Homo sapiens: one gene and its partners. The protein of the gene in region 3 interacts with the protein of the main gene of each other region in a biochemical or structural test. Each region holds a gene or a part of one and is shown on either strand. Other genes may lie near its edges.

Region 1 (3,727 bases), on a different chromosome or scaffold from region 3:
CCCAGGGGGCGTGGCCGTTGGACAGGCTGGGTTCCCCTCCCAGCTGCAGAGGCCAACCCCACTCTCCTCCCCGAAGGCCTTCCTGTAGCCACGTGGCCACGCAAGCTGCGGCCAGGCTTGCATGAACAGGCGGGGCCAGGCAGCCAGTATGGGGGTGCGGCGAGGGTCCTGGGCCACTCACCATCCCGTCGATCAGGCCCATCCCCAGCCCGGAGGGGCCTCGTTCCAGCTCCACCGTGAAGACGTAGCAGAAGTCCTCGGTGCTGGAGCTGCGGCTGGACGGGGCTGGAGGGGACTCCTCCGCAAGGGCTGCAGAGTCTCCTGGGTGGGGGCCAGGAAAGGTGGGTGGGAGTGAGGCGCCAGGAATCACGACGAGGAATGGGATGTCCTGGCCTGGCTGCCTCTGTAGGGCGTCAGGGATGGGATGGCCTCCTGTGGCTCCCAGGAGACGCTGTTCAGGCAGAATGTGACCGGCAACCCAGACATTAGGGTCGGGGTCCGCCCATGGGCGACACCCCCATGTTCCCTGAGGGAGCACCTCAGTCCCCGCCCCTGGCAGTCCCAGGACACTCGCCCCTCTGGGGGCGGCTGTTTTCCAGCTCCAGGGACCCACGCGGTTCTGTGCCACCTCCTCAGCAATCTCTGCTCCTCCTCCTCCTCCCTCCACACCCAGATGTGGCCATGTGCACCCTGAGGGTTCCCACCGCTGACCAGACCGGGGCCCCAGGCCCTAGCCCAGCCCAGCCCAAGCACCTGCCCTGAGGGCCACCAGCTGGTGCCCTCTCCATAATGGTGATCCTGCCGTGGGTGCACTTAGGTCAGAGATGAGCTGTGCACCTGAGCAAGTGGCCTGCCTGGGACCCAGCTTGGCCAGGTGGCCCCAAGCCACAGGGGACACTCTGACTCTGCACACGCACCCAGGACACTTCGCTCCTGCAAGGCACACCCAAGCCCCTCACAGGAGGCCAGGGCCGGCTGGGGCTGCCTCACCCTCAATGCCCTCCCCAGCCTAGGCCAGCTGCGCACACACACTCATGCACACATATACTCACAGCCATGCACACATGTGCAAGCATGCCCATGCACACGTGCACTTACACCCATGCACAGATGCACACACAATGCACACCATGCAGACACACCCATGCAGAGATGCACACACAATGCACACCATGCAGACACACCCATGCAGATGCACACACCCATGCACACACGCACCAGCACACCCATGCACCTGTGAGCACACATATCCACACGCACAAGCACACAGGCACACACAGGCCCTGCCCTGGAGGACTCCAGCTCCACCTTCTCCCTGAAGACCCCTGGGTTCCCCCTCAGCACATCCTCTCCACTGGCTCAGCCATCCCTTCCTCTGCCCAGTGCAGGAGTGACTCTGAGCCACTTTCTAGACTCTCTCCCTCCCAGATCACAGTGAGTATCTGCCCAAGACGTGTCAGCGACTGAGCGACCGTGTGGCCCAGCTGCTGGGGGCTGAGCAGCCCTGAGCCCTCTCCATCTGGCCCCGTCTCAGGTTGCAGGTGTCTGTGGGGCAGGTAAGGAAACCTAGGACCCAAGGGGGGAACGATCCCAGGGGACCGGCCATCAGGGTGCTGTGCGGGGTCTGGGGTGGGTTCCCGCCTGAGCACCAGGCAGGGCTCACCTTCCGGAGCTGCACCCCGGAGGCCGCTGAGTCCGTTCCTCTGCCTCTCTGGGAGCGCTTTTCCACAGGGGCCGCCGGACTCTGGCCAGTCGGGGTCCCCAGGCTCAGGGCCAAGTGGAGTGCTGGGAGGCGTGAGCAAGCAGGACGAGTCCGTGTGCGGGGGGCCAGCCTGGGAGCCCCCACGGCTGGGTTGCCTTCCAGGGGGGGCCTGTGCCCAGGGAGCCCCCCTCAAGGGAAGAGTACGCTCCGGGGCCACTTCCCGGGCTGCTGGGCCAGGGTCCCTGGGAGCCAGGGGGCAGCTCGGGGCCTCCAGGTGCCCGTCAAGGACCACGTGGTGCATACCCTAGGGAGAGGAAGGGTGACAGCTCAGGTAGAGGAGTGGCCAGGTGGACACAGCACTCGGGCAACTGGGCAGCCTGCAGCAGAAGGGCCGCCAGGCCGCGGGGCAGAGGTCAGCAAAGGACTCCCGCAGCCTGTGCAGCTTGAGACGCGCAAGAGGCAAAGGGGCTTCCCCGCCATCCGGAGCACAGCCTGCGCTGGGCCAGGACTCCCGGGGTTCCCAGAGCTCCCGCCTGCTGCCCCCAGCCCAGCTTCCAACCCTTCTCCTGTCCTCCCGGGCACCTCGGGGCACGCTGGCTGGGGGGCCCCCTCCCCAGGTACCTCGGGGCATGCTGGCTGGGCCCCCTCCCCGGGTACCTCGGGGCACGCTGGCTGGGGGGCCCCCTCCCCGGGTACCTCGGGGCACGCTGGCTGGGCCCCCTCCCCGGGCACCTCGGGGCACGCTGGCTGGGCCCCCTCCCCGGGCACCTCGGGGCACGCTGGCTGGGGGGCCCCCTCCCCAGGTACCTCGGGGCATGCTGGATGGACCCCCTCTCTGGGCACCTCAGGGAATGCTGGCTGGACCCCCTCCCCGGGCACCTCGGGGCACTCTAGCTGGGGGGCCCCCTCCCCGGGTACCTCGGGGCATGCTGGCTGGACCCCCTCCCCGGGCACCTCGGGGCACTCTGGCTGGGGGGCCCCCTCCCCGGGTACCTCGGGGCACGCTGGCTGGGTCCCCTCCCCAGGCACCTCGGGGCACGCTGGCTGGGCCCCCTCCCCGGGCACCTCGGGGCACGCTGGCTGGGGGGCCCCCTCCCCAGACACCTCGGGTCATGCTGGCTGGACCCCCTCCCCGGGCACCTCGGGGAATGCTGGCTGGACCCCCTCCCCGGGCACCTCGGGGCACTCTGGCTGGGGGGCCCCCTCCCCGGGCACCTCGGGGAATGCTGGCTGGGTCCCCTCCCCGGGCACCTCGGGGCACGCTGGCTGGGGGGCCCCCTCCCCGGGTACCTCGGGGCACTCTGGCTGGGCCCCCTCCCCGGGCACCTCAGGGCACGCTGGCTGGGGGGCCCCCTCCCCGGGTACCTCGGGGCACGCTGGCTGGGTCCCCTCCCCGGGCACCTCGGGGCACGCTGGCTGGGGGGCCCCCTCCCCGGGTACCTCGGGGCACTCTGGCTGGGTCCCCTCCCCGGGCACCTCGGGGCACGCTGGCTGGGGGGCCCCCTCCCCGGGTACCTCGGGGCACACTGGCTGGGCCCCCTCCCCGGGCACCTCAGGGCACGCTGGCTGGGGGGCCCCCTCCCCGGGCACCTCGGGGCACGCTGGCTGGGTGGCCCCCTCCCCGGGCACCTCAGGGCACGCTGGCTGGGTCCCCTCCCCGGGCACCTCGGGGCACGCTGGCTGGGTGGCCCCCTCCCCGGGCACCTCGGGGCACACTGGCTGGGCCCCCTCCCCGGGCACCTCGGGGCACGCTGGCTGGGTGGCCCCCTCCCCGGGCACCTCGGGGCACGCTGGCTGGGTCCCCTCCCCGGGCACCTCGGGGCACGCTGGCTGGGGGGCCCCCTCCCCGGGTACCTCGGGGCACACTGGCTGGGAGGCCCCACTGCCAGGCCTGCCAGGGCTGCCGGGGCTGGCTCTGCTCCGCAGACCCCACAGAAAGTGGCGGACGTAGAGCAGGTGCTGGTAGATGCTGTCGTCCAGGCAGTTGGCTTCCAAGTCCACCTGGAAGCCGTCGCTGGGCAGGAC
Region 2 (3,727 bases), on a different chromosome or scaffold from region 3:
GGCACATGATGTGTAGTACAAGAATTCGTTGGAAAGGTAGGTTGGAGAGAGGTGACAAGGGGACTTCTATGCAAGACTGATGAGTTTGAACTTGGCTTATCAGACAATGGGGAGTTGTTTTTTGAGCAGTATAAGGGAGAAGAACAAAAACCAGCCTATAATGTCTTGGGGGCTTTGCACATCTCAATTACTCCTAACAATTATGCAAGAAGAACTGCTGAAATTGAGGGCTTGGAGAAGATACAGTAATTATGTAAGGTCAAATAGTTGTTTAGTTCCAAAGCCCATGCTCATTCTGTTGCACCAGGAAGTGACTTGGTTAGGAATGTGCACCAAGATGGATCTGAAGGCAGATCTGTATCAGACAGAAGGACTGGGGAAGGGAAAGCAGTAGGTAAGGTGCTGTAATAGTTTAGGTAGAATTCTAGGCAGGAACTAATACAAACTGCATTCAGGGTAGAGGAAGTGGGATGTGTAAGGTATTATGGTAGCATCAGAGGACTTAGCAATCGTCTAGATATGGGGACTGGATGCTGGGGAAGAATCAGTTGCCAAGTGTTGGTGACTGGGATGATGTTGCTCCACTAACAGGTAACCAAGAGGAGGGGCTTTGGGATGGAGAATGGGCAGAGCTGATTTTTGGCTTGAATACATTACAGTTGAGAGATCTATGAGATATTTTGTTGGAGATACCCAGCAGCTAGCTGGAAAAGTGAAACAGGAACTTGTTAAAAAAAAAAAAAAAGGCAGCATCTGGTGAAGATACCAGAAGGCCAAAGCACATGGAGGCATGTATATACAAATATATTCAAAACCGAACACACCCAATTGCTACTAAAATGCCAGCCTGGGTTTCTTAAGGTCCAAAGTTTTGGGTTTTGTTCTTTATTCTTCCCCATCTTTTATGACAGCTTTTACATAAGACGCGTGGCTACAAGTATGCCCACTGACTTTCTGGGAACTTGCAGCCTTTTAATATGCTATTTTGCCAAAATCAAATGTCAGACGCTTTTAGTAACAGGATTATTTTCGTTAAGACCCCTTCATTGTTAATTGCTGGGTTAGTTTCTGGGGTGAGTTCTGAGCAGGAAACGAGCCTAGATAGTGTGCTTATAAGCTTCCTGGGATGCTGGTGGAAGGGGTGGTAGTTGTACTCAGCATGCCTTTTTTATCTGTTTCATCAGGGCTTTGGGCTCCAGCAGAAAATCTGTTTTATTTTTTTAGGGGACTTACTGATAATTTTATTTTTTGGGGTTGGGGGAGGGTAGGTCAAATCATCAAGGACATAGATTCTGGAAGTCCAGCAGAGGAGGCTGGCTTGAAGAACAATGATCTGGTAGTTGCTGTCAACGGCGAGTCTGTGGAAACCCTGGATCATGACAGTGTGGTAGAAATGATTAGAAAGGGTGGAGATCAGACTTCACTGTTGGTGGTAGACAAAGAGACGGACAACATGTACAGACTGGTAAGTAATACAAGGCCATATATTCATGCATTAAGGCTGGGCCCATTCACTCATGACCTCAACTTTTGCACTGAGTTAGGACTTTGTTCCTCAAACTGGAAGAGGCATAACAATCATCATTAAGGCTAAACTGAAGCTCAACTCAAATTGGTAGTGATAAGAGAATGCCAAATGATTGATAAATGAGTTTTAAGTCCTTGGTCTTAAGATTTTGAAAGAATTTGTGAATATAACTGCAGGCTTACTCTTGGTGATCTGAGAAAATCTATGGAGAATATAAGCCTGGAAATAAAATTGTTCCCAAAATAGGAAACAATTAGATTTTAAGCTTTAGGTCAGTTAAGTGCTATCAACTGCACATAAAAGCCTAGAAAGGATTATTAAACAACTTGTAAGCCCTTAGCAAATAAAAAAGAAACACAGATAGACCAAGACCAACCTGAATCAAACTAACTTTATTTTCTCTTAACAGCTCTTTATCATAACACCCACTACTGCATGTTTTAAGGTTTTTTTTTTTTTTTTTTTTTTTTTTTTTACTTTTAACACAAGAACTGAGGTTGTCTAGTTTAACAGATAACCTGGGGGGCCTTCTAAGTACCATCTGTCTTGCTAAGTGTTGATTGTAAAGATGAACAAGATAAATGTCCTCTGTGATATACAATGATAGTAGAATCTAAAATAAGCGGTACAGAGGGGGGAATATGATGGGTGGTGATATCTTAGGCCCTCCTCATAGATTAGGAAACCGAAGCTTAGAGAGACTAAGCACTTTGCTAAAGTCACGCAGCTTAGTAAAGACTGAAGGTGGTATCTGAACCCAAATTCTTGGACCCGTAATTCATTATACCATACTCCCCAGCACATTTTTTCAAGATAATCTTGTAAGCAGGATTAAACAATTAATTAGATTAATGGCTTTTTTTTTTTAGCTACTTGAACAATCATACCTAGAAAATACTTGATATCAACCTGAATATCAACTTGAATAGAAGTCTCTAATGGCATGCTACTTGTTCCTAACCGTTTATGTGCTTAAAGTTGAAAGGAGATATGGAAAATATATTAACATACTTAAAGTGGCACTAGATAATTCATTTGCTGGATGGTGTAATTAATACTCAAAATATTTAGTTAGGATAGAAAGAATGAAAACTAAAGAAATAAGAATAAATTTCAGATGTACTATACTAACCTAAAAGTAAATTGTATGAATACCACATGGTGAGACCTGATTTGAGGACTACAGAAAAAGACCAGAAACTTCATAGTCCAAGTGGTTGCCCCATCCAAATATGGTAATTTAAAAATTAACTGACAGACACTTGGCTTCTAGAGATGACCATCTTACTGTACTTACTTGGTCAGACCATACTTGGAATACCTGGTAATATAGTTACCACCTCTCTCTGTGCTTCAGTTTCCTTAGTTGTAAGAGAGGGGTAGTAGCTACAGCGAAGGGTGGCTATGAGGGTTGAATTGGAATATTCAGAGCATGTAGAATAATGCCTCACACATCTAAATGTTCTATTTGTTCAATCAATATTGTGTCCGGTTTCAAGAACTTCACTTTAAGAAGGCAATGACAAGGGTAACCAGGGAAGAGGTTTTGGAAGCCACCATGTGAGTATTTAGCTTGAGTAAGGCTTTGGAGAAGAGAGCATCTTCAAGAATTTGAAAGGCTATTACATGTAAGAAGGAGCACACTTTTTTTTTTTTTTTTTGAGACGTTGTCTTGCTCTGTCACCAGGCTGGAGTGCAGTGGTGCCATCTCAGCTCACTGCAATCTCCACCTCCCGGGTTCAAGCGATTCCCCTGCCTCAGCCTCCTGAGTAGCTGGAATTACAGGTGCGCACCACCATGCCCAGCTAATTTTTTGTATTTTAGTAGTTTTACCATGTTGGCCAGGATGGTCTCGATCTCCTGACCTTGTGATCCGCCCGCCTCGGCCTCCCAAAGTGCTGGGATTACAGGTATAAGCCAACACGCCCGGGCCACACATTTTTTTTAAGGTGTCCTATGGGGCACAACAGGACCAGAGAAGCCATAGGGAGCTAGCTTTTGGCTTAAGAACCAACTGAAGCTGCCAGAAATGATGAGTCATTTTGCAGTTGGTGGAAAGTCAAGCAGAAATCAGAGGCGGCTGCTGCAGCTGTTTGTTGTAAAGGGGATTCTGACCCCTCCTGATCTTATCATAGAATGATTTAATTGTAATTTTTCTGTTTTGGTTAATAGAGAACTTTGATCGAAAAAGAAGCCTGC
Region 3 (3,500 bases):
CAACATCAAACTGAAAGTCTCTGGTCTGACAGCTAGAAGGCAACAGAGCAGGCTTCTGGATAAGGAAGCCTTGTTCCTTTGATTTAATGTAACATTAGTGCCAACAGAGACTGCCACAAAGCTCATCCTGACACCAATATAATAGGAAATGGGGAAAGAGCACCTAGCCCTGCCATATCATGCTAGCTCTATACCACATCAAACTTGGTTTCTACGTAAGTTCCAGCAGGCCAGGAGGAAAACTAGCCACTGGACTACTATATGTCTGTTTTGAGCATCATGAGCAAAATCTCTACACTTTCTCTGTTATATGTATTTAATATCCCAATGGCCTGTTTTGAAAACCAAAATATAAATGATTTTCACAAAATTAAAATATCAATTTTCTGAAAAAATATACAAAATAAGTTCCTATATACACATAAAAAACACACCAAAATTAAAACAAAAATTCAGCCAGTGTTAACATTAATCATTCAGCTGTATTATTTAATGCCAGCATTGTTAAAGGTTTTTACTAATAAATTACATTGCTAAGTATAACTAACAAGTTACTAGAAAATAGATTCTTTTACAATCTTTGGTAAATAAGTTGAAAAAAGGAAAATCTAGGATCTAAGCCAGGCTTCCATCGATTTGTTCTAGCTATTACTTAAGAAAACATGTTGCAAGCCTGTTTTAAAAATAGCAGATGTATCTGGAACAAAATAAAAAGTTCAAACAAACACCAAAAAAAAAAAAAGATATTGAGCAACATTTAAAAACGCAACTAATTTAATGAGGTTTCTTCTTATCTACCACTGTATCTAAAGACCATCCAACCTACTTAATTTCTAAGAACATTAATGCCAAGTAAACACATAAGAGTCATGTATGCTATACTTGATATTAGTTATGTAACAATATTTTTATCATGACAAACTATCATATATTGGTGTCAGTGCAAGTTTTGGTTTACTAAATAAATTTTGATTTTTCAAACAATTTTATGTTGTGGTAAAATAGTCAACAGATGAACAAAGAGAGCTAAAACAGTTATTACTGCACTTTAGTAAAATTTAAAGTTCAATGCATTTATGCAAATAGCAACAAACTCTTTTTTCCTGAAATTGCAAGAGTAAGATAATGAAAACTTCCATTAGAATTAATGATTGTGATTTAAATTAAAATCAAACAATAAATTAAATACATCTTTAAAATTTAAAAATTCCATCTTGTAGAATAGTTGTTTGCAAGTCAAATCAGGGCACAATTGCAATCCATTGTTTTGCAGTACTAGCTAGAGCATTTAAGCCTGATGGTGTTTTATAAAGAGTTAACAAACTGGCATGCCTATTAAGATCTTTACAATTTCACTTACTCTGATTTGTATTTTAATGATTCTAAATTGGGAGGAGGCAGGCTTTATTAGAAAAATTTTGGTAAGTTGCCTACTAGTGATTATCTAGCAGCATGTAATTCATAGAAAATCCACTTGAGGCACCTGTATTTAGCAAACTATGCTTTGCAATAATTCTGTACGTATGTTCTTAACAAGTGCCCTTCAAAAATTAGTAATGATAAACTTACATCTAGTTTTTAAAGTTTTCTTTTTTTCAAAATCAGAGGGAACGGTGAAAAATTACACAAGAAAATGCTGATTTAAGATGCACCTTTAAATACCTTAATTGTATTCCTATTAATAAAAATGCAAATTGAACACTAAATATAATAAATAAGATAATGGTTTCATTAAGCCCAAGGGTTGTTTTTCCATTTTATCGTCCCAATTAACAAATAAAGGATATCCTCACAACAGAATAATGCATTTTAATTTTTTATATGAGCTTTTTGTTTTTATTTTTATGAGGACAAAATTAAGACATCTGATCAATTTCACTCCATCATGCATTCTAAGATATATAGAGTTCTTTAAAAAATACCCAAATGAAGAAACAATTAGAAAATTTGAATGAAGGGAAATAAATGCTTAGGAGAAGGAGTGTGTTTTAATGTTTTAATAAGTATTTGCTTATCATGTTGTCTTACTAAGTGATATTAGTAAGTAATATTTATACTATTTATAATATGGCATAAACACCAAAGTGTTATTAATTTCCTGAAATTATTAATATTTTGTAACAAAATAAGTTTAAACCATGATTCGTATCTTTGAATTGGCTAGAGCACTACAACTATGAGAAATGGATAAAGCAACCCTACTTCTACTGTATTCTGGCACACAATATACAAGTTGGCACTGAAGTATCCATTAGAGCATTATAAGGGACTTTACGTGCATTGTCATTTAGGAAAGCAGATTTGCTGACAGACCAGTAATCTGTGAATAAATTAATTTATTCCTTCTCTCAACAAATATTTTCTAAGTGCCTATTTCATACCAGATACTTTTTTACACACTGGTACAAGAAATAGATGGGGTCCCTGCACTCATCTAGTGGGGGAGTTGGATATCAAATAACCATCCAAATTAATATAAAAATAAAACTGGTGAATGGGACACAGGAGATATACATGGTACTAGGACAGCATATAACTGAGGATTTGATGTGATTTAACAAATCTGGAAAGGCTTTCCTAAGGTGGATGAGAAAAAGCCTAAGACGTGAAGGGTGAGTAAGACTTAACTAGGTGAAGAGGGATAGGGAACATATTAAGTGCAAATGTCCAGTGGTAGGCAAACAGGAAGGACGGTGAGGCAGCCTGCATACTTGGTGCTGGGCATGACGCTTACCTCATAGGCAATGGCCAAACCTTCAAGAGTCTTATAGGCCATGTTAAGGACTTTGACCTTTATCCTAAAAACAATGAGAAGTCATTAAATTGTTTTAAACTGATGAGGGTAAGAAGTGAGAGAATGAGATCGGATGAGATTTATTTTCAAGGAATTCATCCTGACTGCAGGTGTATGGATCAAACAAATAAACAAAATTAAGATGCTACAATTATCATGACCTCGACTGAAAATGGTCATATTTTGTGCCTTGTGGTAATAGGAAAAAAAGGGAAACAGAGTACATTAATTTTACCTTTTTTAAACTCAACCACCACTTCTCCAACTTTTCCACTGATGCATCTGTAATTGCTCAAAAGAGTGTACTCAGCCCTGGGAGGTCTGGAGAATACAGCTTTAAACAGCCTGTTGCAAGCCTAAAATTCCTGTTAAGTCTCTGGTCTCATCTTTGAAATAATGCCAATTTTGCTTTCTACATCATGAATATAATATCCATGTTTGTTTTAATATAATGTTTTAAAAAGCTTAGCAAAAAACAAAAAAAACACAACTCTTTGGCTTCTTTTGATCATTTGGCTTCCACAACCACAAAAATATACCATTTTGAGGAATACAGGCCTATGCTATACATGAAAACTGTGAATTCCCTCACCGAATGTAATTCAACACAATGATTCCACATTGAAGACTATACTTGCTGTTTTTAATCAGACACTAAACAATAAAAAGCCATGAACAATTAAAACTTTTAGACTCAATTTTTTTC

Evidence for each region.
Region 1: the proteins of CNKSR2 (region 3) and RADIL interact in a test that uses a peptide from one of them, tested with the Homo sapiens proteins (one large-scale study listed by IntAct).
Region 2: the proteins of CNKSR2 (region 3) and PDZK1 interact in a test that uses a peptide from one of them, tested with the Homo sapiens proteins (one large-scale study listed by IntAct).

What each region holds. Positions count from the first base shown.
Region 1 is NC_000007.14:4,799,990-4,803,716, forward strand, and holds part of RADIL (ras-associating and dilute domain-containing protein), read right to left. Parts: coding exon 3,557-3,727; intron 2,007-3,556; coding exon 1,664-2,006; intron 322-1,663; coding exon 182-321; intron 1-181. UniProt on the Homo sapiens protein: Downstream effector of Rap required for cell adhesion and migration of neural crest precursors during development.
Region 2 is NC_000001.11:145,676,187-145,679,913, reverse strand, and holds part of PDZK1 (Na(+)/H(+) exchange regulatory cofactor NHE-RF3), read left to right. Parts: intron 1-1,268; coding exon 1,269-1,465; intron 1,466-3,700; coding exon of another isoform or gene 3,701-3,727. UniProt on the Homo sapiens protein: A scaffold protein that connects plasma membrane proteins and regulatory components, regulating their surface expression in epithelial cells apical domains.
Region 3 is NC_000023.11:21,380,918-21,384,417, reverse strand, and holds part of CNKSR2 (connector enhancer of kinase suppressor of ras 2), read right to left. Parts: intron 1-3,500.